Linked DNA regions of Homo sapiens. The protein of the gene in region 4 interacts with the protein of the main gene of each other region in a biochemical or structural test. Each region holds a gene or a part of one and is shown on either strand. Other genes may lie near its edges. The genes, in order: ZAP70, NCK1, PLCG1 and LCP2.

Region 1 (7,665 bases), on a different chromosome or scaffold from region 4:
TGAAATGTAGTGGCTTAAAACAATGGTCATTTACAGCCAAGTGTGATGGCTCACACCTGTAATCCCAGCACTTTGGGAAGCTGAGGCAGGCGGATCGTCTAATGTCGGGAGTTTGAGACCAGCCTGGCCAACATGGTGAAACCCTGTCTCTACTAAAAATACAAAAATTAGCTGGGCATGATGGTGGGTGCCTGTAATCCCAGCTACTTGGGAGGCTGAGGCAAGAGAATCACTTGAACCCAGGAGGTGGAGGTTGCAGTGAGCCAAGGTTGCACCATTGTACTCCAGCCTGGGCAACAAGAGCAAAACTCTGTCCCAAACAAACAAACAAACACCGATCATTTATTCACTCTTGTTTTGCTTGGCAATTTGGCTGGTTGCTTGGTAATTTGGGCTGAGTTCAGCTGGGTGCCTCTTCTGCTGGGTTTTTGAGCTTACTCATGTGGCCACAGCCAGCTGGAAGATTGGCTGGAGCTGGATGGTCTCTGGGATGGCCTCACTCACATGAATGGCTATTGGCCACTCATGTAGGGTGCCTTGGTTCTCCTCCATGGGCCTTCTCTAGCAGGCTAGCTTGGACTCATTCCCATGGTATTTGGAGAGCTGCCAGGAAAAGCAAGAGAGGGCAGGCCAACCTCAATGTTCAACCATTTTTCAAGCCTCTGCTTGTGTCATGTTTGCTAATGTCCTGTTAGCAAGGCACATGGTCAAGCCCTGATTCAGAAGACAGAGGAGGAGGCCCCACCTATTGATGGGAAGAGCTCCCTAATATTGTGGCTGTTTTCCCCCAGTATTCCACATGGAAGTTTAAATAAACAAATAAGGAGGAAATTATTAGTTCTAGAAGAAAGAATGAAAGAGACAGACAGACTTGGTGGCTCACGCCTGTAATCCCAGCACTTTGGGAGGCCGAGGCAGGTGGATCACGAGGTCAGAAGATTGAGACCATCCTATCTAACACAGTGAAACCCCATCTCTACTAAAAATACAAAAAATTAGCTGGGCGTGGTGGTGTGCACCTGCAGTCCCAGCTACTTGGGAGGCTGAGGCAGGAGAATGGCATGGACCCAGGAGGCAGAGCTTGCAGTGAGCCGAGATCACGCCACTGCACTCCAGCCCGGGCTGTGGAGCGAGACTCGGTCTCAAAAAAAAAAAAAAAAAAAAAGAGACAGAGGAGGGGAGATGGGAGGTTTGCTGTTTGCTGGTGAGTGGCTTGGCATGGAGTCTCTGTTGTCAGTTTAAAACTTCAGGTTGTGACCCTTAGGAGGTGTTTTCACTTCTCACAGTCCCTGGAGACCATCACCTCCAGGCCAGCCTGCCACCTGCCTCTGACTTCCACAGCTCTGAGACCCCCAGGGCCAATAGCCCTCCCTCCTCACTGGAAAGCTGCACTTAACAGGAGCTTGTGCCAGTGACTCAAAATAGAAATGTTTTGTGGGAGATGTTGACTGGTGTCACTGCGGGGTTTCACGTGACGGCGCTGCATCTGCTGTCCCAGCCTACTGTCTCTGTGGGATGTTTGTTTCCTAATTTGTGGTGGGTTCTCTTCCTTGCCCTTTTGTGTGCCCTCATTGCCCCCGCCCTGATTTCCCATCTCTCCATGTTATCTCCAGACTGTTGTGGGCTAGCCTGGGAACTGCCCCACCCTTCACTGCACTGTACTTCGGGGAACGTGCTGTCCAGGAATGGAGAGGATGGTCACAGCTGCACCTCTCTCCCTCACTCAGGGGACATTTCCTAAGGAAGGGCCTTATTGCAAGGTGGGCCCATGGCTGCCTTGCTCACTGCCATATCCCTGCGCTGAGAACAGTGCCTGGCCTGTCAGTAAAGACTTGTCCAGTGAATGAACATCCACAGGCAGGGCCAGGCCTGGTCTGAGAATTTGCACCTTGGAGGGTGCAGCTCGCAGGCCATCACAAGGGCTCTTCTGTAGTGCAGTGCAATCCCTGAGATCAGGAGTCGGCTGCTTCCGGCCTCCACAGCTTCCACGGGGCCAGCTGCCCTCCCTCCTCACTGTAAAGCTACACTTGACCCTGCAATAGAGGCTTGTGCCAGTGACCCCAGACAAAACTGTTGTGTGGGGGATGCTGACTGGTGTCACTGTGGGGCTTCATGCGAGGGTGCCGGTGTCTGACACTAAGTTGGTCTGTGTTGAGGGGGGATGTGTGTACTCAGGGCTGGAGCGGATGGGGGGACAGTTTCTTACCCCACAAATGCACCACCTTTGAGGGGCTCAATTCCCATCATAGACATGGAAGATTTATATATTTATATTGACAAAATTCCAGCAGAAGGCAATCGAGGGTCTCATTCTAGGAAAGGTCCATCTATTATGGAACTGGTCAGTCTCGTGATGAGAAAGTGACTTGTTTTGATTTGCACAGGGGTGCCCTGTAAGCTTGTCATGGAGCTGCGCCTACCTGTGTGGGTCTGTGTGGAAAAGGCTTTCTCTCCCCAGGAGAATGGTGCTAGGTCTACCTGTTGAAGGCTCTGGGTCTGTTGTAGAAGGCCAAGTGCCCCCCATGGTTGGCTGACTGTATGGCCGAGTGTACCCCCAATGAGTGCCTGTGGATGACTATCTCTCTGTGGATGGCAAGTGTCTGGCCGTGGATGGCCAACTGTTCAGCCATGGGGGACCAGGTGTTCCCCAGTGGATGGGTGTCCCCTCCTCCGTGGCTGGGTGTCCACCGTGGGGGGTCAGGTATTCCCCGTGAATGGCCATCTGTTGGCTCTTGGAGAACAGTGCATTTTCCTGGGAACACAGCCATGGCCCCTCCACCGCCCTCTGCCACTTGGCCCATCATCAGCAGATCTGGAGGTGATGGGGGCCTGGCCTGGCTTCCCCAGTCCCTGCAGCTTCTCTGCAAGGCTCTGAGGTGTGGAGCCCATAGGGTGTGTTGCGGGGGAACCGGGGCACAGCAGGAGGCCCCCAGGTGGCTCTAGGGGTTACATCCCCTCCCTTCCCCTGCCAGGCTGAGGCCGCGGAAGGAGCAGGGCACATACGCCCTGTCCCTCATCTATGGGAAGACGGTGTACCACTACCTCATCAGCCAAGACAAGGCGGGCAAGTACTGCATTCCCGAGGGCACCAAGTTTGACACGCTCTGGCAGGTAGGCTGCCCGTGCAACTTGTTCTGGGAGATGCCGTGCTCAGATGGGGTGCCGGGCTCTGGGGAGGAGAGGAGCCTCTCTGCTAGCTGCCTGCTCCCTGCAGCTGGTGGAGTATCTGAAGCTGAAGGCGGACGGGCTCATCTACTGCCTGAAGGAGGCCTGCCCCAACAGCAGTGCCAGCAACGCCTCAGGTGACGGCAGCAGGCGGGCGGGCGGTGGGCGGGGGCGGCAGGAGACCTGGCCCCCAGCCCTCACTGTCCCTTCTGCTCCCCCAGGGGCTGCTGCTCCCACACTCCCAGCCCACCCATCCACGTTGACTCATGTGAGTTGGGGGCACCTGGAGTGTGGCCTTGGGGATGGAGCTGGGGAGTGGCTGTGGGGGAGGCTGGGATGGAGGCTGGGGTGCCTGTGGAGCGGAAGAAGCTCTCTCTCCACTGTCTCTGGGAGTCCTCAGTGGATATAGGTCTCATGAGAGGGGCTGGACGTCCCCAGCTCAGGCCTTGCTGACCCTGTGGCCTTTAGCCTCAGAGACGAATCGACACCCTCAACTCAGATGGATACACCCCTGAGCCAGGTGAGCGGGCAGAGGTGGGGACGCGGGTTGGGGCTCATGCTGAGCCGAGATCAGGGTCGCTGTCAGGGCTGTGGGGTTTCACGGGGGGCGCTGTGGGCCGGGCCAGGCTGTGGCAGTTGGCTTGGTTAACACCTGTGCACACATGTGCCCACACCCATCACACCTGCCTGTGCACATGTACGTCCCAGTGTGTACTGACGTGCAGGGAGCACACTTGGCCTTGCCTGAGGCTCCCCAGACACACGTTTGTTGAGTACCTACTATGTGTCAGTCACGTTCCGAGGTCACTGTGTGTATGAGCCACCGAACCCTCCTGACATGCCTTATGAAGTGGCTATGGTGATTAACCTCACTTTACAGATGAGAGAGGGAGGGGTCTGTCTATGGGGATGTGAGGCAGTGGTAGAGGCGGGATGTGAACCCACGATGGGCCCCAGAGCTCACATTCCTAAAATGGTCTGCTGCGGGTGCTCCTGTTTCTCATGGGTGGGCCCAGACCTGAACATGTGTATGCACAGAGAAGACACATAGTTACATGTGCACCTAGAGGCTCGCTTTTGGAGGCCTCGTAAATGTGGCTGTGTGCTGCATACGCAGACAGGGACGGGCCCGGCCATAGGCGTACACGTACGAATGCACACACATGCACACCCCAGCTGGCACAGTAACGGTGCCACGTGGATACCAATGCACACGCCCCTAGAGTCCACCCTCATGTGGCTTCATGGGGCACCCACAGCTGTGGCCAGGAGTGTATGCCAGTGTGTGCGTGTGGATGTGCAGGAACACGCATGGGCACCCACCTGCTTGTGCATGCTCCAGGGACGGCACCCTTGTCTGGGGCAGGTGCTTGTGGGGGCTGAGGCTGCCTTGCTCCCCACACCCCTGCCCCTGACCTGGGAGTGTACCGCTGTGTGTGCCCAGCACGCATAACGTCCCCAGACAAACCGCGGCCGATGCCCATGGACACGAGCGTGTATGAGAGCCCCTACAGCGACCCAGAGGAGCTCAAGGACAAGAAGCTCTTCCTGAAGCGCGATAACCTCCTCATAGCTGACATTGAACTTGGCTGCGGCAACTTTGGCTCAGTGCGCCAGGGCGTGTACCGCATGCGCAAGTATGGCCGCCCCTGCCGTGGTGGGAGCACCGCCGCCTGGGGCAGAGGGGAGTGGCTTCACCGGGCTGTGGGACGGGAGCCGGGATGTCTGTCTCACAGCAGTTTGCCTGGGAAACAGACTCTGGGGCAGGACGTTGCACGCTGGAGGATTCCCTGAGAGAGCTCGGGACACCTGACGGGGGTGGGATGGGGCCTGGGCAGGGGGAGGCTGTGGAGCTGAAGTTCCCAACCCAGGGGAGCTGCAGTGGGGTCCCCGATCCCTGAGTCCACTGGCCCCTGACAGGCTGCCCCTGGGGAGGGTGTCACTTTGGATTCTTTTTGGCGATGGGCTGTTCCCGGTGAGCGATCCGGCTGTGAGCCGTCCTCAGCAGACGCTCCAGGCTGCAGGGACATTGAGCGCCTTGGTCCCAGCCTGGGTGGCGACTACAGTTGTCTACCACACAACTCAAGGGAGAAGAGAGATGGGTGGGTGGGGGTGTGGGGCCGAGCAGGGCCGGTGCCCCTCGCCCACGTGCCTCCCGTGGCCGGGTCGGGCAGGAAGCAGATCGACGTGGCCATCAAGGTGCTGAAGCAGGGCACGGAGAAGGCAGACACGGAAGAGATGATGCGCGAGGCGCAGATCATGCACCAGCTGGACAACCCCTACATCGTGCGGCTCATTGGCGTCTGCCAGGCCGAGGCCCTCATGCTGGTCATGGAGATGGCTGGGGGCGGGCCGCTGCACAAGTTCCTGGTCGGCAAGAGGTGAGCACCGGGTGGGCCCGGCCATCGGGTGGGTGGGGCCGGGGCCCATCCTGGGCATGGTGGACATGCACCCGCGTGCATGCGTGTGTGGGAAGCCGGGGCACTTCCACACCATCGTGGACACACTCTCAGCCTGCACACCCACACCCATACCCATGCCTGCAAAGCAGAGCTAACCCTCAGTCCACCATTGCACCAGTGCGGTAATAACAGTGTCTACCTCCAGGGCCTTTGCGAGGATCGAATGAGTCGGCACCTATAAAGGGCACTGCTAGGGCCGGGTGCGGTGGCTCATGCCTGTAATTCCAGCACTTTGGGAGGCCAAGGCGGGTGGATCATGAGGTCAAGAGATCCAGACCATCCTGGCCAACATGGTGAAACCCCGTCCTTACTAAAAATACAAAAGATTAGCTGGGCGTGGTGGTGGGCGCCTCCCAGCTACTCAGGAGGCTGAGGCAGGAGAATCGCTTGAACCCACGAGGCGGAGCTTGCAGTGAGCCGAGATTGTGCCACTGCACTCCAGCCTGGGGACAGAGCGAAACTCCATCTCAAAAAAATAAATAAATAAAAATAAATAAAGGGCACTGCTAGTAAGAGCTTTGTACACATCAGCTGCTCCCCAGACTCCCTGGGCCAAATTCATGGCCCCTGGGAAAGTGCCCATTGCCAGTTATCTGGAACCTGCCCTTTGTTTACGTGCTGCGTGGTTTTCTATTTTTAATTTTTTTTTTTTTAAAGAAACAAAAACGAAGATGTGACAGAGATCACTTGTGGCCTGTAAAGGCTAAAATCCTTACTATCCGGCCCTTTACTGAAAAGTTTTGCAGTTTCATTTGTGGTTCCTCATCCCCAAACTCTTACCCTCACAGACACAAGTTCTGCACTCCCCAAGGCACGTTTTTGCTGATCTGTGCCCTCTGGCTGGTGCACACACCTTCCCAGTGTGCCCCTGGCTCCCACATTCAGTCATTTGACAGGTGTTTATTGGACAGTTTCTCAGTGACAGGAACTGTTAGTAGCACTTGGGATTCATTAGCGAATAAACAAGGCAGAGATCCATGCTCTGTATTCTGGTTGGAGAAGAGAGACAGTAAGTAACAATCCTGATGAAATCTAGAGCATGTGGGAAGATAGTGTGGTGGGCACAAGCCTGCCGCAGCTCCAGGGGGTTGGGAGTGTTGGGGTGCGAGGTGCAGTGAGCAGGGAGGTTTGAACAAACTGAGGGAGGCCGCCATGCCCAGACGTGGGGAAGGGCATTCCAGGCAAAGGGCACCGCCTGTGCAGAGGCCCTGAGGTGGTCCCGTGCCTCGTGTGGTGCGGGCAGGGAGGGGATGAGCAGACCGTGCCAGGCCTTGCGGGCTGCCAGGAGGACTTGGAGTTTTACCCTGAGTTGGGTGGGAGCTAGGGGGTGCTGTGAGCAGAGGAGGGGGAGGACCTGACTCAGGGGCAGAGAGGACAAGACAGTGGGAGACAGGAGGGAGCGAGGGCCTGGGCGGAGCTGACTATTCCTGCCTGGGGGTCCAGGTGAGTGATGCTGCGGCTGCTTCCCGGTGGCAGAGGCAGAGATGAGGAGTGCGGTGGATTCTGGAGAGATTCTGACACCAGAACTGCCAGGGTTTGCTGATGGATTGGGTGTGAGAGAAAGAGGAGCTGCTGGAGAGGACAGTGGAGGAGCCATATGTGTGTGCACATGGGGATGGGGACAATCAGGCCACATTATCTTTGAGATGCCTGTGAGACCTCAGCACGTCGAGGGTGCAGGCATAGGTCTAGACTTGGGAGTCGTAGCGTGTGGGTGATCCCTAAAGCCTTGAGACTGGATGAAGGCAGGAGTTTTGCCTGTTTTGTTCACTGCTGTGTCCCCAGCCCCACGCCTGGCACACAGCAGGTGCTCAATAAGCGTTTTTGAACACATGGTCACCTGGCTCATGCCCAGCTGGGTCAGAGAAGCATGCTTTGCCCCTGGGAACTTGGCTAGTCTTCTCCCAGCTGACCCCGCCTTCCCCGCCACCCCAGGGAGGAGATCCCTGTGAGCAATGTGGCCGAGCTGCTGCACCAGGTGTCCATGGGGATGAAGTACCTGGAGGAGAAGAACTTTGTGCACCGTGACCTGGCGGCC
Region 2 (7,665 bases), on a different chromosome or scaffold from region 4:
AATTTTTTCTACCAGACACCCTAAATCATCTCTCCCAAGTTCAAAGTTCCACAGATCTCTAGGGCAGGGGCAAAATGTTGCCAGTTTCTTTGCTAAAACATAACAAGAGTCACCTTTGCTCCAGTTCCCAACAAGTTCCCCATCTCCATCTGAAACCACCTCAGCCTGGACTTTATGGTCCATATCGCAATCAGCATTTTGGGCAAAGTCATTCAACAAGTCTAGAAAGTTCCAAACTTTCCCACATTTTCCTGTCCTCTTCTGATCCCTTCAAACTGTTCCAACCTCTGCCTGTTACCCAGTTCCAAAGTTGCTTCCACATTTTCGGGTATCTTTTCAGGAGCACTCTACTCTACTGGTACCAATTTACTGTATTAATCTGTTTTCATGCTGCTGATAAAGACATACCTGAGACTGGGCAATTTACAAAATAAAGAGGTTTAATGGGCTTACAGTTCCACATGGCAGGAGAGGCCTCACAATCATGGCACAAGGTTAAAGGCATGTCTTCTCACATGGCGGCAGATAAGAGAAGAGAGTTTGTGCAGGGAAACTCCCGTTTTTAAAACCATCAGATCCCACAAGACCTATTCACTATCACAAGAACAGCACGAGAAAGGCCCACCCCCATGGTTCAATTACCTCCCACCAGGTTCTGCCAACCACACGTGGGAATTGTGGGAGTAACAATTCAAGATGAGATTTGAGTGGGGACACAGCCAAACCATATCAGTTACATTTATATAAAGTTCAAAAACAGGCAAAAATAGTTTATGGCGATAGAGGACAGAATAGTGATTACCTTTGAGAGGGAAAGAGACACTGATTGGAGGGGGCGCAAGAGAGCCTTTTCGAACACTAAAAATGTTCCACATCTGGATTTGAGTGATGACTACACAGATATCTACAAATATAAACATTCTATACATTTAAATTTGTGCAGTTTTCAATAAACATTTAAAGATACTTTCTCTAAACAAATTTTTAATTTTGTTTTTTTTAGACAGCGTCTCGCTCTGTCCCCCAAGCTAGAGTACAGTGGCGCGATCATAGCTCACTGCAGCCTCGACCTCTTGGACTCAAGCAATCCTCCCGCCAGCCTTGCAAGTAGCTAGGACTACAGACGCTCACAGCCAAACCTGGCTAATTTTTTTTTTTTACTTTTGTAAAGGCCGGCTCTTGCTATATTGCCCAGGCTGATCTCTAACTCCTACCCTCAAGGCATCCTCCCACCTCAGCCTCCCAAAGTGCAGGATTACAAGCATAAGCCACCATGCCCAGACTAAACAATTTTTTAAAAAAAAATTAGTAAGCTTTTTAGTTGGATCCACAACAGGAATTAATCAAAAGGAAAAAAAATGTAAAGCCTTATACACAAAGATCTTTATTGCAGAATTTACAATAGCAAAACACATACACACACCTGGAAATAACATTTAATAAATGAATGCCATGCCAACCCTGGATTTCTCTGGTGTGAGAGAAATTAATATTTGGCATCTGTCTGATACTAGTAGCCAAACTTAATGCTGATTAACCTAAAGGAGCCATCTGCCCTGAGGAAGAGCATGATCACAGACACCAAAGCAAAAAAGGGCTAAGCTATTCAAGGCTGAAAGAGGAAAGAGACAAAAGCAAGAGATGAAGTGAGACGTAGACAAAAGCCAAATCATGCAAGACCTCACAGGCCTTTTTTTTTTTTTTTTTTTTAAAGACTATAGCTAAGAAATGAAAAGAAAAAATAAAGTAACTGATTTCCTTGGGCAGCAGAATTACTGGGAGACAGGGGTTGTACACTAAATATTCTAAATGTTTCTAAAAATGAAAATATATTATTCAAGAGCATGTAGTACTTGCAAATGATCAAGCATTTCCAAAAAAAACTGCCCAGCCCTATTAAATTTATAAAATATTTCTGCGATACAGCTGGAATAATTACAAGGTACACAACATATTACAGTATTTGTTGTATCTATTATTTGAATTGATCTACACACTAACATATGAAAATACGTGCTAAAATTTTTGGAAGAAAAGGATGAATTTTTTTTTTTTTGAGATTAAGTCTCTCCTTGTCACCCAGGCTGGAGTGCAGTGGCATGATCTCGGCTCACTGCAACCTCTGGCTCCTGGGTTCAAATGATTCTCCTGCAGCAGCCTCCCAAGTAGCTGGGATTACAGGCATGCACCACCACGCCCAGCTAAATTTTGTATTATTAGTAGAGACAGGGTTTCACCATGTTGGCCAGGCTGGTCTCGAACTCCTGACCTCAAGCGATCCACCTGCCTCGGCCTCCCAATGGGATTACAGGCATGAGCCACTGCGCTGGGCCAGGATGATTCTTTTAAAAAAAAAAAAAAAAAAAAAACTTTTGAGAAACATCCATTCTTTTAAATATTTCCACATATTTTCACTGCTTGTTTTATTCAACTGGCTGTTTGAACAAAAGCAAAAATTATCCATACCATATTCATGTCCAATTCAGCAATCATTACTTACAATTTCAGGAATAGAAACAAGAGAATCAGTGTTTTAACAGGTTTTTTTAACTGATAATTTAAACAAATAGAAAAAGCAACTATTAACAACCAAAAAATAAATGAAAAACAGACCAAGAGAATAAGCATTCCTTTCCCTCCACAGAGAGATTTTACCTGATAGTCTTCTATGCTGTCTTACAGCATTCAACTATTGTTACGTACACATAAGAAAAATACGAAAGCAACCATACATGGTTTCTGTTACAGAAACTTTAGAGTTAAGAGGAAAAATAAACATGAAGAACAAACATATAAAAGCACTCTAACTCACCAAATGGAACAAATGATTTTTCTTTCTTTCTTTTTTTTCTTTTGAGACAATCTCGCTCTGTCACCCAGGCTAAAGTGCAGTGGCGGGATCTCACAACCCCGCAACCCCTGCCTCCCGGGTTTAAGTGATTCTCCTGTCTCAACCTCTTGAGTAGCTGAGATTACAGGCATTCGCCATCACACTCAGCTAATTTTTGTATTTAGTAGAGACAGGGTTTCACCATGTTGGCCAAGCTGGTCTCGAACTCCTGGGATCAAGTTATCCGCCCACCTCAGCCTCCCAAAGCGCTGGGATTACAGGAGTGAGCCATCAGGCCTAGCGGAACAAATAAAATTTTTTTTTTTTTGAGACAGAGTCTTGCTCTGTTACCCAGGCCGGAGTGGAATGGCATGATCTTGGCTCACTGTAACCTCTGCCTCTGGGGTTCAAGCCATTCTCCTGCCTCTGCCTCCCGGGTAGCTGGGACTACAGGCATGCACCACCACAGTGGGCTCATTTTTTTATATCTTTAGTAGAGATGGGGTTTCACCATGCCGGCCAGGCTGGTCTCAAACTCCTGGACTCAGGGGCTCCGCATGCCTCAGCCTCCCAAAGTGCTGGGATTACAGACGTGAGCCACCGCGCCCGGCCTCAACAAGATATTTTGTCTTGTCTTGCTCAACAAGAAGTGATGGTTCCTGACAGATGAACAAGAGGACAAAAAGTAGCAAAATGTGAAGGTGTTACAGTTCTAACACTCAAAAGAGAAAAAGAACATTACAGCTAGATCACTGCATTTAGTTATATGATAAGCCCTCCAGGTTTCCTCTAAATCATTACATTGTTCTGTATCCACATTCAAGGCCTCCAAAGATTAATTGGCATTATCAAGAGATTCGAAAAGACAAACTAAATTGCAGCAGTAAAACCTGTAAGAGATTCATTTTTTAGCAGATGATAGAATTCAATGGTAAACACTGGCCAGGTGCGGTGGCTCATCCCTGTAATCCCAGCACTTTGGGAGGCCAAAGCAGGCTGATTAACTGAAGTTAGGAGTTGGAGATCAGCCTGGCCAACATGGTGAAACCCTGTCTCTGCTAAAAATACAAAAATTAGCCAGGCATGGTGGCAGGCACCTGTAATTCCAGCTACTTAGGAGGCTGAGGCAGGAGAATCCCTTGAACCTGGGATGCAGAGGGTACAGTGATCCGAGATTGCCCCACTGCACTCCATCCTGAGTGACAGAGCAGGACTCCGTCTCAAGAAAAAAAAAACTCAATGGTAAACATGACAATATTATTTTTGTTAATGGTGTTAATACACCTAACAAGTATAGGGGAAAGAAACTGTATATAGACTTTATATCATTGTTTAAATAATTTACAATGTAAGGCTGGGCATGGTGGCTCATGCCTGTAATTCCAGAACTTTGGGAAGCCAAGGTGAGCGGATCACCTGAGGTCAGGAGTTTGAGACCAGCCTGGCCAACATGGTGAAACCCATCTCTACTAAAAATACAAAATTAGCCAGGTGTGGTGGCAGGTGCCTGTGATCCCAGCTCCTCAGGAGGCTGAGGCAAGAGAATTGCTTGAACCCGAGAGGCGGAGGTTGCAGTGAGCCGAGATCATGCTGCTGCACTCCAGCCAGGGCAAAAACTGCGAAACTCTGTCTCAAAAAAAAAAAAATTTACAATGTAAATATGAAGGTTCCCCTGCCCTGAAGTTTTCAATCTATGAGAAGGCATAAATACACAAAATGCAAAATAATGTGAGGCAAATAAGGCAAAATTACAAGAGATGAGAAGTAGTATGGTTTCATAAACACACAGAACTTGCGTCAGAAGATCAAGGGTTGAGTCTTTGTTCTGCCCCCATCACTAAATGTTTGAATTTTGGTGCATCTAGTCTATTTGTATTTCAGTTTCCTTATCTGTAAAACACAAGGTTGGATTCCAACATTCCAGCAATAATGCTCTATAATTCTATGATTCAAGTCCACACAACATTAAAAACCAAGGGAATACTAAAATAATAAGGGGTATGGGTTTAAAGGAAAGCAACAGACCAGGCACAGTGGCTCACCCCTATAATCCCAGCACGTTGAGAAGCCAAGGTGGGAGGATCGTTTGAGGCCAGGAATTCAAAACCAGTCTGAACAACACAGTGAGACCCTATCTCTACAAAAAAAAAAAAAAAAAAAAATTAGCCAGACATTGATGCACACCTGTAATCCTGGCCTTTGGGAGGTTCAAGTTACAATGAGGAGCTGTGATCAGGCCACTGTACTCCAGCCTGAGCAACAGAGCGAGATCCTGTCAAAAAAGAAAGAAGAAAGAAAGAAAGAGAGAGAGAGACAGACGGACGGACAGACGGATGGATGGACGGAAGGAAGGAAGGAAGGAAGGGAAAAGAAAGAAAAGAAAGAAAGAAGGAAGGAAGGAAGGAAGGAAGGAAGGAAGGAAGGAAGGAAGGAAGGAAAGAAAGAAACAAAGAAAGAAAGAAAGAAAGAAAGAAAGAAAGAAAGAAAGAAAGAAAGAAAGAAAGAAAGAAAGAAAGAAAAGCAAGCAACATAGGGAACAGGAAAAACATTTGGAAGACTGCACCAAAGGACCAAAAGCGAAAATTCAACAAATTTTACTTCATTTGCTACTTGGTAATTTAGGAGAAAAAAAAAATTTTAAAGACTAGGCAAACTGGACGGGCACAGTGGCTCACGCCTGTAATCCCAACACTTTGGGAAGCCGACGCATGTGGATCACCTGAGGTCGGGAGTTCAAGACCAGCCTGGCCAACATGGTGAAACCCCATCTCTACTAAAAATACAAAATTAGCCAGGCGTGGTGGCATGCACCTGTAATCCTAGCTACTCGGAAGACTGACACAGGAGAATCACTTGAACCAAGGAGACGGAGGTTGCAGTGAGCCAAGATGGTGCCACTGCACTCCAGCCTGGGTGACAGAGTGAGACGCCTCAAAGAAAAAAAAAAAGAAGAAAGAAAGAGGCCAGGCACAGTGGCTCACACCTGTAATCCCAGCACTTTGGCAGGCTGAGATGTGTAGATCACCTGAAGTGAGGAGTTTAAGACTGGCCTGACCAACACGGAGAAACCCCGTCTCTACTAAAAATACAAAATTAGCCAGGCATGGTGGCGCATGCCTGTAGTCCCAGCTACTAGGGAGGCTGAGGTAGGAGAATCGCTTGAACCCGGGAGGCAGAGGTTACGGGGAGCCGAGATCGCACCATTGCACTCCAGCCTGGGCAACAGAGCGAGACTCTGTCTCAAAAAAAAAAAAAGAAAGAAAGAAAGAAAAAGGAATGATACGAAGGTACAAAAATACAAAGAGTAAATAAGAATCAGAGATTGGTTTGGTTAGAGTGGACAGCTCCTATAAAGAAATAGTGCTGGCACTGATTAAAAAAAAAGAAAGAAATAGTGCTGGCCCCAGAAAAACAGGTTTGAGCAGACTGTTATTAGGCTATGAATTCTGAACTATACTCTGAAGATAACAGAGAGTTATCACTGGTTTCCGAAAAGTGAAGGATGTGTTTGAAGCATAATTCTAAGATTTAGGAAGACATACTAAGTAGAGAGAAAAATCAAGCAAAAAACCCAATTAAAGGCTAGTGAGTAGTTCAAAGATAAAAATGGCTGGCAAAAATCAGCCAATATTGTTACACGCATAGAGATAAAACCAAAGTTTGTGTCTGGGTAATTGAAAGCATGGTAATGTCACCAAAACAAAGTCAGCATATGGAATCAGTTTTGAAGGGAAGACTATAAATTCTATCTTCATTAGAGTTTAAGGTGAGGATCAGCCAGACATAAAGTTTCCTTAAATCTTTAAATGTCATATTTAGCCTTGTTGTCTTCCTAACATCACAGTATTTATAGAGAATTTGTTAACTGCTCAGTGATTTCAAAAGTTCCCTTCAATTTTACTTATTAATGAAATAATCATTTAATTTTCTAGTGCAGATAAAGAACATTTGGTATTTTTCTATATTATAAAGGTAAATTCTAAAAATTATTAAACCATGATTTTAAAAATGAACTGTATCTGTATTCATTAAGTCAAGTCTTCCTGACAAGTGATTTATAATAATCACATCAAATATACCTTCAGCTTTGAAAAACACATGGTGAAAAAGTAAAATAAGACAAAGTAAAAGTACAAAGCAATGAAAATGTAAAACTCTAGAAAATTTTTGAAAAATGAATATAGGCCAGCCACGGTGGCGCACACCTGTAATCTCAGCACTTTGGGAGGCGGAGGTGGGCAGATTGCTTGAGGTCAGGAGTTCGAGACCAGCCTTGCCAACATGGTGAAACTCCGTCTCTACTAAAAATACAGGCCGGGCGTGGTGGCTCATGCCTGTAATCCCAGCACTTTGGGAGGCCGAGGCAGGTGGATCACGAGGTCAGGAGTTCAAGACCAGCCTGGCCAAGATGGTGAAACCCTGCCTCTACTAAAAATACAAAAATTAGTCAGGCGTGGTGGCAGGCGCCTGTAATCCCAGCTACTGGGGAGGCTGAGGCAGAGAATTGCTTGAACCCGGCAGGCAGAGGTTGCAGTGAGCCAAGATCCCGCCACTGCACTCCAGCCTGGGCAACAGAGTGAGACTCCGTCTCAAAAAAAAAAACAAACAAAAGAAAAAGAAAAATATATATATATACAAAAAAATTAGCTAGGCATGGTGGCACACACCTGTAGTCCCAGCTACTTAGGAGGCCGAGGCACAAGAATCGATTGAACCCGGGAGGCAGAGGTTGCAGTGAGCCAAGATCGTGCCACTGCACTCCAGCCTGGGCAACAGAGACTCTGTCTCAAAAAAAAAAAAAAAAAAGAAAAGAAAAAAACCCAGAACCATGAAGT
Region 3 (7,665 bases), on a different chromosome or scaffold from region 4:
TCTCCTGTTCCCTTTTTGCTTCCTGGGAAACAGGGCCCCAGTGAGTGATCTAGACTCTGATCTCACTCCAAGGTGCCAGGGATCTCATTCACTCACTGCCTGCCCAGAAAGCCCAGCTTAAATTTTTTTTTTTTTTTAAAGAGACAGAGTCTTGCTCTGTCACCCAGGCTGGAGTGCAATGGCGCGATCTTGGCTCACTGCAACCTCTGCCTCCCGGGTTCAAGCAATTATCCTGCCTCAGCTTCCTGAGTAGCTGGGTTACAGGCGCCTGACACCACGCCTGGTTAATTTTTGTATTTTTAGTAGAGATGGGATTTCACCATCTTAGCCAGGCTGGTCTTGAACTCCTGACCTCGTGATCCCCCTACCTTGGCCTCCCAAAGTGCTGGGATTACAGGCGTGAGCCACCGTGCCCAGCCCAGCTTAAATTCTTTGAACTCACCTCCCCTACTGAGAGAGATGGCTACCTTGGATTTCTTTCTCTGAAGTTGAAGTTGAATAACCTATCGTTTTACCTGCTTAGGACAGCTGCTTGCCCAAACTTTACTAGCACACATGATTGTATGGAGCTTCATGCTTCCGGTGTAGACCAGTTCTCAGGCCAGAACCAGGCCATCCTCTTGTGATCAGTCTGGCAACAGACATTCTGTTCTCACTGGAGGGAATGCTCTGTGTTTCACTGCTGGCCTCAAAAGGCCCTCAGCAAAATCCTTAACAAAGTGACATATGTTACCTTTTCCAACCTCCTTGGTAGATATGCTAAGAACGCCCAAGAAAAGGCCACAGTCCCAGTTAGGATGGACAAGCTAACACAGGCACATTATACTCAATTACTGTTGAAGGTGGAGGAAGTGACTAGGGCAGGAAGAGGGGAGCTGCCTCCAAACAGGTGGTGGACTATCAGGCAGAATAGGGTGACCATAAAGTGGGTCTTCAGTGCCTCAGAGAAGGACCATCACCCCTGCCCCCATCGCTGCCCAACCTCCCAACTGAGGGAATGGAGTTGTATTCCTTAGCTCACCTCCTGCCCCCAAGTAAGCTGAGAAACCTGTGGGACCTATGGCCAACTGGAGCTCTCCTTCACTCCTTCCTAGGGTTAGTCACCCTGTGAACTCAGGCCCACACTCTCTGGGCCTTAGGCTGAAGTCAAGGTGGGGTTGGAATTCTCCCACCACACATCCACACCTACACAGCCAGAACCCAGTGTGGTCAATACCCGACTCCTACCATGGGCAAGGCCAAGCCAAGGACACTATGACCCAAGCCCATGCCCTCAACAATCATTTCCCTCAGAACATTTTAACTCAACCATATCCCCAGGTGTCCAAGAAAACAGGAAGCCAACCCCAAAGTGAACTCCCCACCTGTGCCCAGGAAGAACTAAACACACACAAACAAGTGGCCAAACTCGCCATGGCCCAACTCCTCACCAGTTTGGCCAGCTGTTCACTGTCAGGGCCCAGAACATCAGTAAGACCACCCACTCTCCTCCGTACCCAAGCCTTGCTGCCTTGCGCCCAGGCCCCTCACAGCCTTTGTACAGATGCTTTACCCAACACCTGTGTGCCAGCTGGCAGGTGGAGGGACCCCAGGGGGTAGGATGGGCTGCTACAGGGAGAAAAGCGATTCCATCTTGGCCCTCAGGCCCAGCCTACAGCACTTTAGGCACAGCTGTCTCCTGCCAGCCCTGGGCATTAGCGGTTTTCTGCATGGTCCAGATCACAAGCTTCTCAGGATCAAGGACTGGGTCACCTCGTTTTCTTGCTTCCTAACTCCAGCCTCCTCTGTGCCAGGCCTGGGCTCAGTAAAAAGGGATGCCAGTCTTCTGTAGGAGAACGCCCTGCCCCGTTTACTCTGCATCCTGAGTCTTGCTGAAGCCAGGGCCACCGGCCAACACCAGGAAGGGCCAGGGCCGGAAGGAAGCAGCAGAGCCTATACACAAAGCCTACATGTGGACTATAAAAAGGAGCTCCTCCCTGCCTCCCCCAGGATGGGCCCGGTTCCTAGGAGGTAAAGAGTGGGGAGAAAGCTAGGACTTAAGCCTGGGCACACAGCCACTGCAGCCTCTCAAAAGCTAGCCAAGAACCACCTCAAAAGGAACTAGTCTTGCAAGGAGGGGTGCGAGAATATTAAGGGCTTAGCCAGGAATGCAAGTAGAGACTCTCCAAGTCCCATCTCTTGGGACCATAGCCTCTCTTAAGGCAACCAACTCCACTGTCCCCATTGCTTCTTCCCCAAAACTACAGAATATTCGGGGACCAACCCCTTCTCACACTTCTCTACTCTCTAGGGGCTGAAAACACCCCCTAGAAGTCTCTAGGCACCCATATTCCCCACTTTCTCTGGAGACTTCAGCACACCCAGCAAAGCTCTGGGAAGCAAGTGTGATGAGTGGCAGAAGTAGCGAGAAACTCAAACTCTGGGCAGCAGGAGGATACTGTGGCCACAACAGAGTAGGCTCAGCAGGCAGCTCAAGTAGGGCCATGGGTTGGTGGGGAAGGCGGGGGCAGCTATGGCAGAGATGACAATTAGGCAAGGGCCACACAAATATACCTATTTCAAAGATGTCAGCCAAGACAGTCTCTTGACCCACACAGGCAGCACTCTACTCTACCACAACAGCAAAGCCACACTCACCACATGCATCCTAAGTCATAGAAATTAATTCCTTCTAAACCTCCATACTCCAAATCCCTCTCCAGCCTAGTTTGCCCAGGGTGTTCAGGTTCTGTACTAGAGGCCTCACCCAGAACCACTGAGGCCACTCTCCAGGGACGGTGGTGTAGGTTAGCACACATAGCAAACAGGGGAAATTAACCTTCCTTGTTGCCAGCCATTGATATGTGGGCATCATTTGTTATCACAGCACACCCTCACCTACCCTGACAGAGCAGCCTCTTGCCTTATTTCCTTCATAGAACTCACCAAATCCTATAAGAATTTTATCTGTCTGCCTATTTATCTCCTTTCTGGCTGTATCTACCCTAACCTTATGTCCACTACTGGTCTCCACAGTGCTTGGCACAGTTAGCAAATGCCAGAGTCTAAAGCCAGGGAAGCACAAGTCGTCTCTCACTTATTCAATGAGCCACTGAGGCCCAAGAAAGCTAGTTTTTTGTTTTTTTTTAAGGAGAGTAGGTATGGTGAGATGGAACACAAACCACGCTAGAGATCTACTGCCACCATGAACAAGTCAGAGGCTGGAGTAATCACATCCAGCTCAGTGTGCCCAACACACAGTAGCAAGGCCCACAACAAATGTATGACAAATTAAAGAGCACATGAATGAATGCATGCTCTTGAGTTGTCATAGAGAATCCTGGAAAAGCCCTTCTCAGGATATTTGGGGCATGGAGCCCCAGGTTCCCATGTTCTGTAGAAGCTTAGGCGGAAGTGTCACCACAAACCAGAAAGTCAAGAGGGTGAGGCTCTTCTGTGTCCCACCCCCAATCAGCGGCTACATTCACCCCCATGTAGGAGTGTGGGAAAGGTCTGGGTGGGCCAAGCATCTCGACACCGGTGTTGTGGCAAGGATGAGTGCAGGACGGGTTTTGAAATTGAGGCAATGAGTCCAGCTTGTCCACAGATGGAAGTCTAGGCTGGTCAAACACATGTGGCCAGAGGGAAGAAAAACAAAACAAAACAAAATAACCCTCTGTTCCTATAGAACGGTCCATCCTATTATCATTTTCCCCAGAATGGGAGAATAAACTGAATACTATAGCAGGAATCTGAAATCCTAGGATCTGCCATGAACTTGCTATGTGACCTTACCCTTAGGGCTTGGTTTTCTCCTCTGTAAGAGAGGGATAGTAACTCCTGCCCTCCATGGATTCATGGAGCTGCTGTGAAGTTCAAACAATACAACAGGTGAGAAAATGTTCCATGAACTCCCAATATGCTATTCCAATTCCAGAGTTTTTTGATGCCCCAGTCCTCTGTGTACAGACTCAGGGAAGGAACACAGAAAGCAAGTAGGAAACAGACTCCTAGCCCAGGTTGTTGGAGCAGCCACTTGTGGCCGAGCTTAGTGGTGGAAAAGATTGGAGCTCTGTGGTTAACAAAGGTGAGAGTAAAGGAAATGAATACTGTTAAGTGGCCACTAAGTGACAAATGTTGTGCTGGGTAGTTTTCACATAAAATCTCTTACTCTTATATATAATCTCCCTTATTATTAATATACAGCTCTGTGAGGAGAAATTACTTTTACAGCTAAAGATCAATTTCAGACAGGGAAAAGTAATCTGCCCAAGGTCACAGTAAGAGCTGAGACCTGAACCCAAATCTGACCAGCTCTAGCCACAAATCTCCAGGCACTTCAGCTCAATTACCAGCAAGGTGGGACTATCTGGTCAATGGTAGCCTGAAGCCACTCCTCACCCGTGGCTCCACCTTGAGTCTTGCCACCTGTAAACATGCTGCTCTCAGAGATTCCCTCCAAGGACGCACTGTTCCCATGCTCCTCTCAACAAGGCACTCTACAAGGGGCACCAGAACATTCCCATCCTCCTATCCCACACCCATCTCTCCTAGGACTCTCCTCACAGTCTGCAGTGACTTCTCTAGTTCTAACAAAGCAAGTGGAAAGGGGGAAAAATCAGTCTCCTAATATCACACCTTTGCAATCTCAGGCCTCACTCCCTTCCTCCAACTTATCATCTGTGGTCTCCTTGAAGCCACATCCCACAGGAAAAGGCACAGAGTAAGAAGAGATGCTGTGAGTTAACGGAGACTGACACAGAACAGTGACAGCAGAGGCAGGCCCTACCACATCGAGGCTGTGGCATTAGAGCACTTCCTCAAAGACAAGATCTCTCCAGATAGCGTCCTGGGCTAGGCACTTAGAAATAGGACAATATCATACCTTCACTCTACAGAAGGGGTTACCACCCAAAGCAGCTGCTTCCAGCCAACTGCCCTGTCTCCCTGCAAAACCAGCAGTGGGAAAGAGCCCTGACAATAGAGGGACTGCTGAGAGCTGCAAGAGAGGATGGGCGGGCCTCCTTGCCTCTGAATCAAAGGGCTTGGTGGCCAGGCACCAGCCCCTTAGGACAGCAGGTGCATTCGAACTCCTCCCCACCAGGTCCTCCTGAGAACTTAATCCTCATCTCTGTCCTGTCAGGGATCCTACGTAGTAAGCACTTACACTGTGCCACACTCCATGCTAAGCACTTTATACAGGTGCTAAGCACTTTATACAGGTTCTCATCAAATCCTCACAAAAACCTTATAAAATAAATGCCATTTAATACTATCCTTTTTACAGATAAGCAGCCCAGAGAGGTAGTCATATGCTTTAAGGTCACAGAGCAAGTAAGCTGCACAACAGGATTTTAATTCAAGCAGAGTCTAGGGCCCAAATGCTTAACTACTAAGCTCTGTCTCACCCCTCAAGACCCAGCCCTTCTCCCATCTACCACCATGGCATCCCCACCCTGCCTCAGCAAGAAGGTCTTGTCTGGGCCCTCAGCAGCTCTCTCCTGCAAACTGTGCAAACCGTAGGAGCTCACTGGCCTCCCTCCCCAACACCTGCCTGACAAACCACTGCCACTGTGGTCTCCCAGGCAGAGGCAAGTCAGTCCCACAACAGCCTCCGCTGACTCCCGTCGCCTCCAGGACTGAGTGTAATCTGCTGGACATGGCACACTAGGGCTATAGCTGTCTCCAACCAGTCCCAGCTTCCTCTCTACCACACCATATCTGTTCCCTACCCCTGCACAGAGTGATTCCCAGTTCCTTAGCCTCGGCACAGACAGGTGCCTCAGTAATTCAAGGCCTACCTCAAAGGTCACCTCTCCTTTAATGCCTTCCTGGCAGAGCTCCTCACAGTTCTTGGTAGAGGCCTTTATATTATGGTATGTAACACACAGGGTTATAATCATATGCCTCTACATCTGTCTTTTCCAAGAGTTCATCAATGGCACAAACCATGTCTCAATAAACTTTTGAATCCTTGGTGCCTAGCACTGGGCAAATGGGGAGGTATAATAATACTTATTGCAAATATTAATAAATGTGCCTCATTCCAAGAAGCTACCCAGAGCAAAGCTGGTAGCCAAGATCTCTAAACTCCAACTGAATCCTGTGCATCTGTGTACACACACACACAAGAGTCTGGAGAGAAGCTGGAGGTGTTGTGGGTCCCAGGACTGGGTGTGCTCAGCTCCTCCAGTTATCTGTGAAGCAGGCCCTTTTCCTAGGTTCACAGGAAACAGAGGATCCCAGCTGGGCGGGGGGGCCTGGAAACCCACACATCGGGGCAAGCCTGGGGTGCTGAGGAAACACTAAAAGGTCTGACTTCCCTTGGAAAAAACTACATCAGACAGGAAATACACAGGCAGGGATGGCTAGCTCTGGAGATCCGGACATGTGCTCCTGCCCCTCTCCCACTGGGAGTAACAGCCAGTACAAAGAAAACCCTTGATGACACCGGCCTGGGCCTTGCCCTCTCCCGTGCTGTGGGCCTAGCCCTCGGAGCAGGCCTCCTGGTGTGGTCTGCTCCCCAGCCACAGGGGTCAAGCCCCAGCCAGCTGGTTCCACTACTACCTCCCTTCTGAGCCCGCCTGCCTCATCAAGGCAGTTAGCTGTTTTCTTCCGCCACCCTCACCCTCTTCATCAAAGGTACTGCTCACAATTGTCATTGCCTGTTTTCATTTCCCTAAAAGCAAGCACCCATACTCCTTCACCTCAGAGGGCCTGGCATCTAGAAAAGTATCTAGTGAAGGATCAGCCAAAGACAGAAGCCTGGGGCCTCAGAAGTCCCCATGGACATGCTCAGCCAGTATTCAGAGTACCTCCACAGTGTCTACACCAGTGTTTACTGGGCCCACAAAGACCCTCAAATGGACAACCTCATTAAACACGAGTCTGAACCATCTCAACTCAGAAAACACCAGAAGAAAAAGTGTGGAGCCAGAGCCTAGAGAGGCTGAGGCTGTCTTGGGATACAAAAGCCAAAGTGGTCTTTGCCCTGTAATGCATGGTCTGAGCACAAAGGTGTCTCACAGAGGAGCCACGTGGACCACAGGGAACATGGGCTTGGGGTTGCTAGTCAGCCTCTGACTAGTGAGCTGGCCCCAGCTGAGGCCCTGGCACACACTGACACAACACCTTGGGCACAAACGATTCTCCATTTCCATTTGCTCATCTGTAAAATGGGACGAAAGGTCTCAATAGCACTCAGCTGGAACTCTACATAACTGCATTTTATTCATTTATGTCAGTATCTGCAACATAAAAGGCCAAACACCAACCTGGTTCCTGTCATACCACCAGGACAACCAAACTTGTCAACACCTAAGCACTTCCCCACCCCGCTTTTGAGCCAAATGACCACCCTAGAAATCAGGAGGTGTCAGCTCCATTTCACAACTGCTGACAAGAGAGGGCACAGAGTCAGGGCAGAAGAAGGTCTTACATATCAGTATGAGTGCTCCTTAAACCACACTGTCTCTCCCTCAGGTCTACCAACACCCTGAAGGTAGCACAGTGTCTCTCTCTTAGGCCAGGCTTCAGGCACTGCTGGTACCCTGGTAGGGTCAGCAGGAAAGGCCAGATACCTGAGGTGCTTGGGCAAGAGTCCAGGTGGCAGAAAACCCGGCTGGCAGTCCAACCTCCTCAGAGGCCGCAGGGATCAGAACCCACCAACAAGGAGAGCCCACGAAT
Region 4 (7,665 bases):
GCCCCTCCCCCAGCCTCGCTGCTGCCTTGCAGTTTGATCTCAGACTGCTGTGCTAGCAATCAGCGAGACTCCGTGGGCGTAGGACCTTCCAAGCCAGGTGCGGGATATAATCTCGTGGTGCGCCGTTTTTTAAGCCGGTCTGAAAAGCGCAATATTCAGGTGGGAGTGACCCGATTTTCCAGGTGCGTCCGTCACCCCTTTCTTTGACTCGGAAAGGGAACTCCCTGACCCCTTGCACTTCCCAAGTGAGGCAATGCCTCGCCCTGCTTCGGCTCGCACACCGTGCGCGCACCCACTGACCTGCGCCCACTGTCTGGCACTCCCTAGTGAGATGAACCCGGTACCTCAGATGGAAATGCAGAAATCACCTGTCTTCTGCGTCGCTCACGCTGGGAGCTGTAGACCGGAGCTGTTCCTATTCAGCCATCTTGGCTCCTCGAGAGCATAAATCTTATTTTAAGTCAGAATGGGACACACTTAAGTTGTGGTTTGATCACTAATCACTTGGAAATTAGGAATTAGGAAGAAATAGCTACTTAAAGCAATAATAGTTTTTTATGACATATGTGCTACAATATAATATCTCCTGTTTTGTTTTGCACAGAGCTCTCCCAGTTATTGCTTTGTGACCTTATCCTACATTTTAATCATCCCATCAAGACTGAGAACTTAGCAGAAGCAGAAAGAAACAACCCCCTCTTTGAAGAGTCTAAAATATCAGATGTATCCCTTGTTTCTAACAGTTTTTCTATCTGATTTCTTATTTGTTATGAGTTTCTGTTTTATTGTTGAACTAACAAATATTTGGGAGAGTTGAGTTTACTAATTTGTATATATATAATTTAAAACAAAATAAAAATAATGTAAACAAGCAGTTCATGTTCTTGAAGGCTGTTTAATGTTTTGAAGAATGGCTTAACTTACGTCACTAATGGCAAGTGTATGACATAGGAAATTGGCCATGGGTCACTGCTTATCCTTTAGCTTATGCTTGAATTTGGCTCAGGTTGAAAGAGAGCTACTAAATTATTAATTGATGGAATGAGTTTTTATTAATCAGAACTCTCCTGGTAGTGAACGCCAAGCACAACTCAACCAGCTGAAGCATTTATTGAGTCATGTGACTTGGAAGCACATAGTTGGAATAGATTTCAGGGATCCCACTAATTTGTCCATACTTTTACTGTGTTTTTGTGTGTTGGCCTCGTTGTCTTCTATTGTAGACTGGTTCTTCCAGATAATTGGTAAATGGGAGTAGTTGCAGGGCAGCAGGCAGCTCCAAGTGTACAGCATTGCCTTTGGGGACCCCAGATAAAAGAGAGATCTTGTCTCAGGCTTCATGTTTAACATTCCAGAGAGTGACCCTGATTGACCCAGCTTTAGTAAGATGTTTATCACTGAGCAGGGTTCTGAGCAACTGTGACTGATGCACCTGGGGTCATATAGAAGGTCTGTGGCCAAAAGAGGCAAGGCCCAGCCAAAAGGAGTTGTCGGTGCTTGAACAGAGAGAGAATGCTAGTCATGAAAACATTAGCTTCCCAACATTGATTTCAGTCATAGCCATGGAACAGAACATCTTAATCCTGATGGCACTTTCCACTAATAGACTTAAAATGAGCTTTGGTTTGTTTTATAAACATGATTCGCTACCAAATAGTTGCTTTGAAATCTATCAGGTCCTTCATTTTAGATATTTTTGAATTGTAAAGATAGAATACGGCAAAGCAAGACAAGTGGAGCTTACTCGATACTAGAACCTATGGTGTATGCTATCCTTACTACCTTGTACCTAGCTCACTTGTTTAACACAGAAGAGCCACTAAGTAAATACTTGCTGAATAGCCCGTTGTGTAGACGTGTAAATGAATGCAGGGTTTTCAGCCTTAAACTCCCAAGTTTTGGACCCTAAACTGAGAACTTCTGGTTGTTAAGGATGAGATTTTGTGAAACACCATTTTTATCATCAGTTAAAAGTCTCTACCTTCTGCATACTCCTTATTTTAACATATCATCAGTTTTAAAATGGTGACTTCTTAGATTCCTTCCAATACCCCTTTTATTAGCTCATGAAAATGAAGCTGCAAGATACTCTTTTCCATTTCGAAAACTTGTAGATTAAGCAGAGACGCCAAAAATTGTTGCTAATAAAAGTTGTGCAATAACAACCAAGGTCCCAAAGGGAAAAACTTGAAGAACAACTGATTGTCACTATTTGGCTGAATACCAGTTTTTTAATCTGGCTGAATGCCTATATTTTTTGTTAAGTGATATTTGTAAACTGGAGGAAAGAGTTTAATTACCTCAAAGCACTTATACAGCCTGTTTGGGAAGGATGAGGAGAAGGGACTTTATGGCAGAGCTGTCAGGGGGATAACAAGAGACAGAAGAGCCATATCTAATAGGAAAGTCTGATCACATTTAATCTAAAGTGTTGCTCCCTCGTCTTCCCAGGAAGCCTTTGGTAAAATCTATATCCCTGGACAATGCTTTTGGGGTTGGGAGAAGGTTGGTGGGGGGCTGTGATGGTTGGTGTGGGTGTGGAGATGTGAAGAAATGCCAACTTAACCCCAGATGTGTTCATTAAACCTAGACCCACGATACACCAAAGTCTCATCCCTAAATTTAAAATGTTTTCTTTTGGTATTTGTAGTTTAAATTTTCTTTAAGACAAAAATATAACAGTATGGACTAAAAGTCAATAAAGTTGTTTTAGGAAACCAAAAAAGTAAAGCAAAAGACTATTTTAATCCCAGAAGTTATCTCAACATGCATTTGTCTTTTCATAAAAAAATTACGTAAAAATGCCCCCAGGAAAAAATACTAAATAAGAGTGAAATTATATTTTTGAAGCCTCTTAAATTATTGCTGCTGAGAAAACGAGGTTTAGTGATTTTCAAATTACATGTATAAAACTAATGAATGCCTCTGACTGACAGAGGTTTGGCTGTAAAAAACAAATCAGTTTTATGTGACACCAATAACTATTACTGTTTCAGTGTTTTAAAACTTGCCCCAAATTGTTTCTGTAGCTGTGTAAACTACTGTATTTTGAAATGGGCATTAAATAATCTTTTAAAAAATGAATTATTACAGTGCACTACTAGACTTCAAGTGTGAACATGACTCATGCACTTTACAAACATTGAAGAAGAATAAATAAATTATGGGATAGTTGACAGTCTTCATTTCAAACACTGTTTTTAAAGGAAAGGATAAAACCCTTGTGTTCATGGGGAGGGGTTCAGTTCAGTCCTAAGTGTTTGTCCATTGACCAAGGCTGATTGATCTCGTGTTGGCAACAGAGGCAGGAGGACGGTTCATTTGCTCGGCTATAACTTGCTATGGGTACCCTGCAGCATGCGTTAATGTGCACTGGTATCTGGAACCTCGGTTTTTCCCATCAATGAGCAGAAGTGGCATTTTCCTGAAGTAGTCAATAATATCTGACACAGACAGAAAGTCCTGAAAGAGTCAAGATAGGGAGATGAGTCAACATTGGAATGAAAAGCAGGAACTTCACTTTCAGTTTTTTTATCTGCATAATATATGCTGCCTCTTCAAGTGATGAGGATTGTGGGGGGAAAAAATGTAAATGTGGCAATTAGTTTAATGATTTCTGCTATAGAACTTTGAAAAAATTCCTCATAAACATCCAACAAACCATAGATAAAGATAAAATATGGGCCGGGTGCAGTAATTCACCCCTGTAATCCCAGCACTTTGGGAGGCTAAGGCCGGTGGATCACCTGAGGTCAGGAGTTTGAGACCAGCTTGACCAACATGGTGAAACCCTGTCTCTACTAGAAAATAGAAAAATATTAGCTGGGCGTGCTGGTGTGCGCCTGTAATCCCAGCTGCTTGGGAGGCTGAGGCAGGAGAATTGCTTGAACCTGGGAGGCAGAGGTTGCAGTGAGCCGAGATTGCGCCATTGCCGCACTCCAGCCTGGGTAACAAGAAGGAAACTCCATCTCAAAAAAAAATAGATAAAATATGTGCATGCGTGTGTATATATATATATATATATCTACATATCTATATATATATATATGTAATTTGAAATGCATATATTTTTAACTTCATATGAAGGGGTCATTTAAATAGTCACTATTACAATATTCTTGCCTCGGGTTGCTCTGTTTTTGGTTTTGGTTTTGGTTTCTGCATCTCTATTTCACCCCCAGTCATTAATAGTGTTAGGAAACATAAGGACTCAGGAGGTCAGACACGGTTCATGGTGTCTAGAGGTGGGATCTGCAGCATGGCACAGGAGTTCCTTCATGATCTCTCTGCTGTGTCCTCACTGCCACCTTCACACTCATAAAGGCTCAGCAACCAATATTTGCAGCCATAGCCTGGATCGCCCCAGCCTTGATTGCTTGCTAGAGAGGGAAAAGCCTAACTCATTTTTCTAGATGTGGGTCACAACTCACCTAGGAACCCTAACAGGATAATGCACTTCCTTTAAGACTAATCTGCTAGGTGCCTCCCTCCATGGGAGCTGCAATGAGTGGTTGGTCTGCACTTGTGTGTTTCCACACTGGACCAAGATAAATCTTGAAGGGCAAATACCTCTGCTCCTATAGGGTCTGTGCAGCTCTATCCACTGCCAACCAGCGATTCAAACATTTGATCACAAGCATGCATTTTTTTTCTATTCATTAACATTATCATAACAGAAGTATGTGAAGCAGAAGTTATGGGTAAGCTGTTTCTCATTCTGGACATGTTTGATTCAGCTGGTCCTCCTCTTGGAACTTTGAACTTAGAGTATGTTTGGGGCGTTACCTTCAGTTGTTAGTTTCCTTTGCGAAAAACTAGCCCTGAGGGTTTCTTTCCATCCGTTCTGATTAGCACTCAAAAAGTGACTGGCATGAGAATCTAAACCTTGGCCTAACAGAGAATTTCTTTGGCGATCTGGCCATCCTCACAGAGCCAAACCTCCATTTTGTTAAGAAATGAGCCAAGTATTTGAATAATCACCCCAGCAAATATTCTAATTTTTCCCCTTTTCCAGGTGGTGTCAACTTAAAATGCAGCCTACGTTAAAATTATGCCACAGAGGTGAATAATAGTGGGAACTTTCCTTTGACACCATCTAAATAGATTTTTTTAAGTTAACATAGTTTTTCTTGATTTTGAAAATTATACATGTGATTATTTGAAAGAAAAGATATACAAGAAAGAATCCTATGGCAGAAGTAACCATTGTAAAGATTTTGCTTTATTTCTCTTCCAATAAATGAAGGGCTTCACTCATGTGATTTAATCCTAAATTTGCCATACAGCACGGACTCTCAAAGATCGCTCCATGAAGGCATGCAGAGTGGCATAAATAAAGACTTTGGGAAAATGTCGAAATTTGAAATCCTTACCTCTTTCCCTCGGAGTCCAGTTCCCAACAAGTAAACTTGACTTTCCTTCTGATAACGGATCTGGATGTTGTAAACTTTATCTTTGTACAACACCATGAGGACATATGGATTGGTTGTTGTTTTTTTAGAGCTGTCTCTGACCAGAAATGTGCCATCCTAAAAAGACAAATTCCTGTTATTATGGGAGCAGTAAAAGTCAATATTTTTGTTGCTTGTAAGAGTAGTAGACAAGCCTCTAGGGATCTGACAAACATGTCAGTTGCACTTTGCAGCTTCTTGAGTGCAAAACCTGTCATTCAACGAACATTCAGTTCTCCAAACAGCTACATATCCCATGTGTCATGAGTTATTTTGTTATTAAGAAAGGCAACAGAGATTGTATCAAAGAAATTTCCAAGTCAATCTCGTTAAAGCCTCCTGATAAAAACGGAATCTTTTGTTCAGTAATAAATAATGGGTGGTTGAGTGGATAAAAGGCCAGGAGAAATAAAATACTTTATTGGTTAACTCAAGATATATCTTCCTAGTATTCCTGTGAGTTAATTCCCTAAACTTTCTTTTCCACATCCAAAGTCAGAAAACATCCACATGCCATGAAATTCACCCTTCTTAAAACCCTGTGATCTCTAGATAGTCTTTCCTTCATCAGACCCTTGAGCAAAATTGAATGCAGATGTTCTCTTTTCTTTTCTTTTTTCTGATATTTGCTAAACTACTGTTTTGATTGTCCTGTACTTTAAATTTCCATTCAATAAATTATTGCTACATAATATTAATACTGTAAAGATCTAATATTAAAATAGAATTAATTGGTAAGGACTCCTTTAAACTACTCCCTTCTCCTCATACCAAATCAGGATAGCTTTAAATAGCCATGAGTTGGCAATAATGACTTTCCTTTGTTCCTTTTATTGCAAGTTAATTGAGCCTGTCAGAACATCTCTGCTAAACAAACATACTTCTGGACCAGTGATTCACAGTCTTGGCTTCAAATTAGAATTACCTGGGAAGTTTGAAGACTCCCAGAGCTGACACAGCACCCCCAGAATAATTAGAATCTCAAGGTGAGACCCAGGAATCGGGATTTTTCAAAAGTTCTCCGGGTGATCTAAATGTGCAACTACTACTGAGAACTACTGGTGTGGAGTTTAAGTGTGAAAGATGAAAGATTTTTGCTTTCCCATTTCTGATAAATAAATCTAAGGTAAAGTTTCGGCACTGGCTACGGGAAATATGTTTAAGACTTTATGATATTAAAGGACTAGCTAGAAACGTCTAGGGCAAAAAGCAAAAAGTTGCTGCCATCTCTTTAATATTGGTCCTTTCACATCAACATGGATGGCACGTCTGTGTTAAGAGGAAGATAGAACTGGTACGATGTTGGAACTTTGAAAGAGAGTCTCCTTCTGACACCATGTGATTCCTATGACAAGACAGACTCTTTCATTAATAAAATCTCCTAAGATGCTGCCAACCAAATGACTGCCTTGAGATTCTTCTGCCAGCCTAATGATTCCCGAGCCTAGGAATCCCTGCTATGGGTGCTGGTAGTTGTGAAGCTGGCACTAATGGGTCTCCTAGGTATTACAGAAAGCAACAGCACCTAGCAGAATTCCTAGCCTGTAATTGGTACTCAGGACAGGTCAGTTCCCTTCTCTGCCATTAATATTTACAACTATGTTAAAATAAACTATAGCACAATACCTGGTTTATCTTTCTAAGAGCAGCTTCTGCCTCTGGTCGGGTAATATAAGAAACGTACCACTCTTCATTTAATGAATTCTGAAAATGTAAATTTTTAGAAACTGAATAAATTTTACAGTTACAGATGTAAGTGAAAAGAAAAGCCTCTGAGTAATCATTTCCATAAATCAACACCTCAATTCCAGGAGGTCTGAAACATTTGTTTTCTTAATTTGCATTCAGAGTCATTTAGCTGGGGCTAAATAGAAGATATTTTGTGCGAACTGCTTTTTATCATGACACTGGTTGCAAAAATGCCTGTGAATAAGAGTTCCTTACAGTATGGAACCTCTTCAGGAAAGATACAGATACAATAATTTCTTCAGTTTAGCATAATAACCTGCTTGATTAAAAAAATGGGTTATTGAGCAGTTAAGTGACGAATCAAGGTCATAAACATAAAAAACAGGATTATTTTTCTTGCTGTTTAATGCAAAACACATGTTTGCCATTGAAAGCGTCTGAAAGAACGCCAAGGGAAAAGAACATATTGTTCATCTGGATCTTCTCCTTTAACTTTTTTTTCAAATAAATAAAATAAAACAAAGGG

Evidence for each region.
Region 1: of the proteins of LCP2 (region 4) and ZAP70, one has a biochemical effect on the other in vitro, tested with the Homo sapiens proteins (2 studies listed by BioGRID).
Region 2: the proteins of LCP2 (region 4) and NCK1 form a complex in vitro, tested with the Homo sapiens proteins (2 studies listed by BioGRID and IntAct, with this or other methods).
Region 3: the proteins of LCP2 (region 4) and PLCG1 form a complex in vitro, tested with the Homo sapiens proteins (2 studies listed by BioGRID).

The regions. Positions count from the first base shown.
Region 1 is NC_000002.12:97,729,911-97,737,575, forward strand, and holds part of ZAP70 (tyrosine-protein kinase ZAP-70), read left to right. Parts: intron 1-2,972; coding exon 2,973-3,111; intron 3,112-3,214; coding exon 3,215-3,302; intron 3,303-3,386; coding exon 3,387-3,433; exon of another isoform or gene 3,434-3,633; coding exon 3,634-3,685; exon of another isoform or gene 3,686-4,609; coding exon 4,610-4,802; intron 4,803-5,339; coding exon 5,340-5,546; intron 5,547-7,562; coding exon 7,563-7,665. UniProt on the Homo sapiens protein: Tyrosine kinase that plays an essential role in regulation of the adaptive immune response. Regulates motility, adhesion and cytokine expression of mature T-cells, as well as thymocyte development.
Region 2 is NC_000003.12:136,864,733-136,872,397, reverse strand, and holds part of NCK1 (SH2/SH3 adapter protein NCK1), read right to left. Parts: intron 1-7,665. UniProt on the Homo sapiens protein: Adapter protein which associates with tyrosine-phosphorylated growth factor receptors, such as KDR and PDGFRB, or their cellular substrates. Maintains low levels of EIF2S1 phosphorylation by promoting its dephosphorylation by PP1.
Region 3 is NC_000020.11:41,140,323-41,147,987, reverse strand, and holds part of PLCG1 (1-phosphatidylinositol 4,5-bisphosphate phosphodiesterase gamma-1), read right to left. Parts: intron 1-7,665. UniProt on the Homo sapiens protein: Mediates the production of the second messenger molecules diacylglycerol (DAG) and inositol 1,4,5-trisphosphate (IP3). Plays an important role in the regulation of intracellular signaling cascades.
Region 4 is NC_000005.10:170,245,358-170,253,022, forward strand, and holds the end of LCP2 (lymphocyte cytosolic protein 2), read right to left. Parts: intron 7,214-7,665; exon of another isoform or gene 7,155-7,213; coding exon 7,077-7,154; exon of another isoform or gene 6,291-7,076; intron 5,529-6,290; coding exon 5,373-5,528; intron 3,463-5,372; coding exon 3,340-3,462; 3' UTR 876-3,339; downstream 1-875. Other genes in the region: putative uncharacterized protein C5orf58, read left to right, coding at 605-756. UniProt on the Homo sapiens protein: Adapter protein primarily involved in signaling pathways within T-cells, as well as other immune cells such as platelets, mast cells, and natural killer (NK) cells.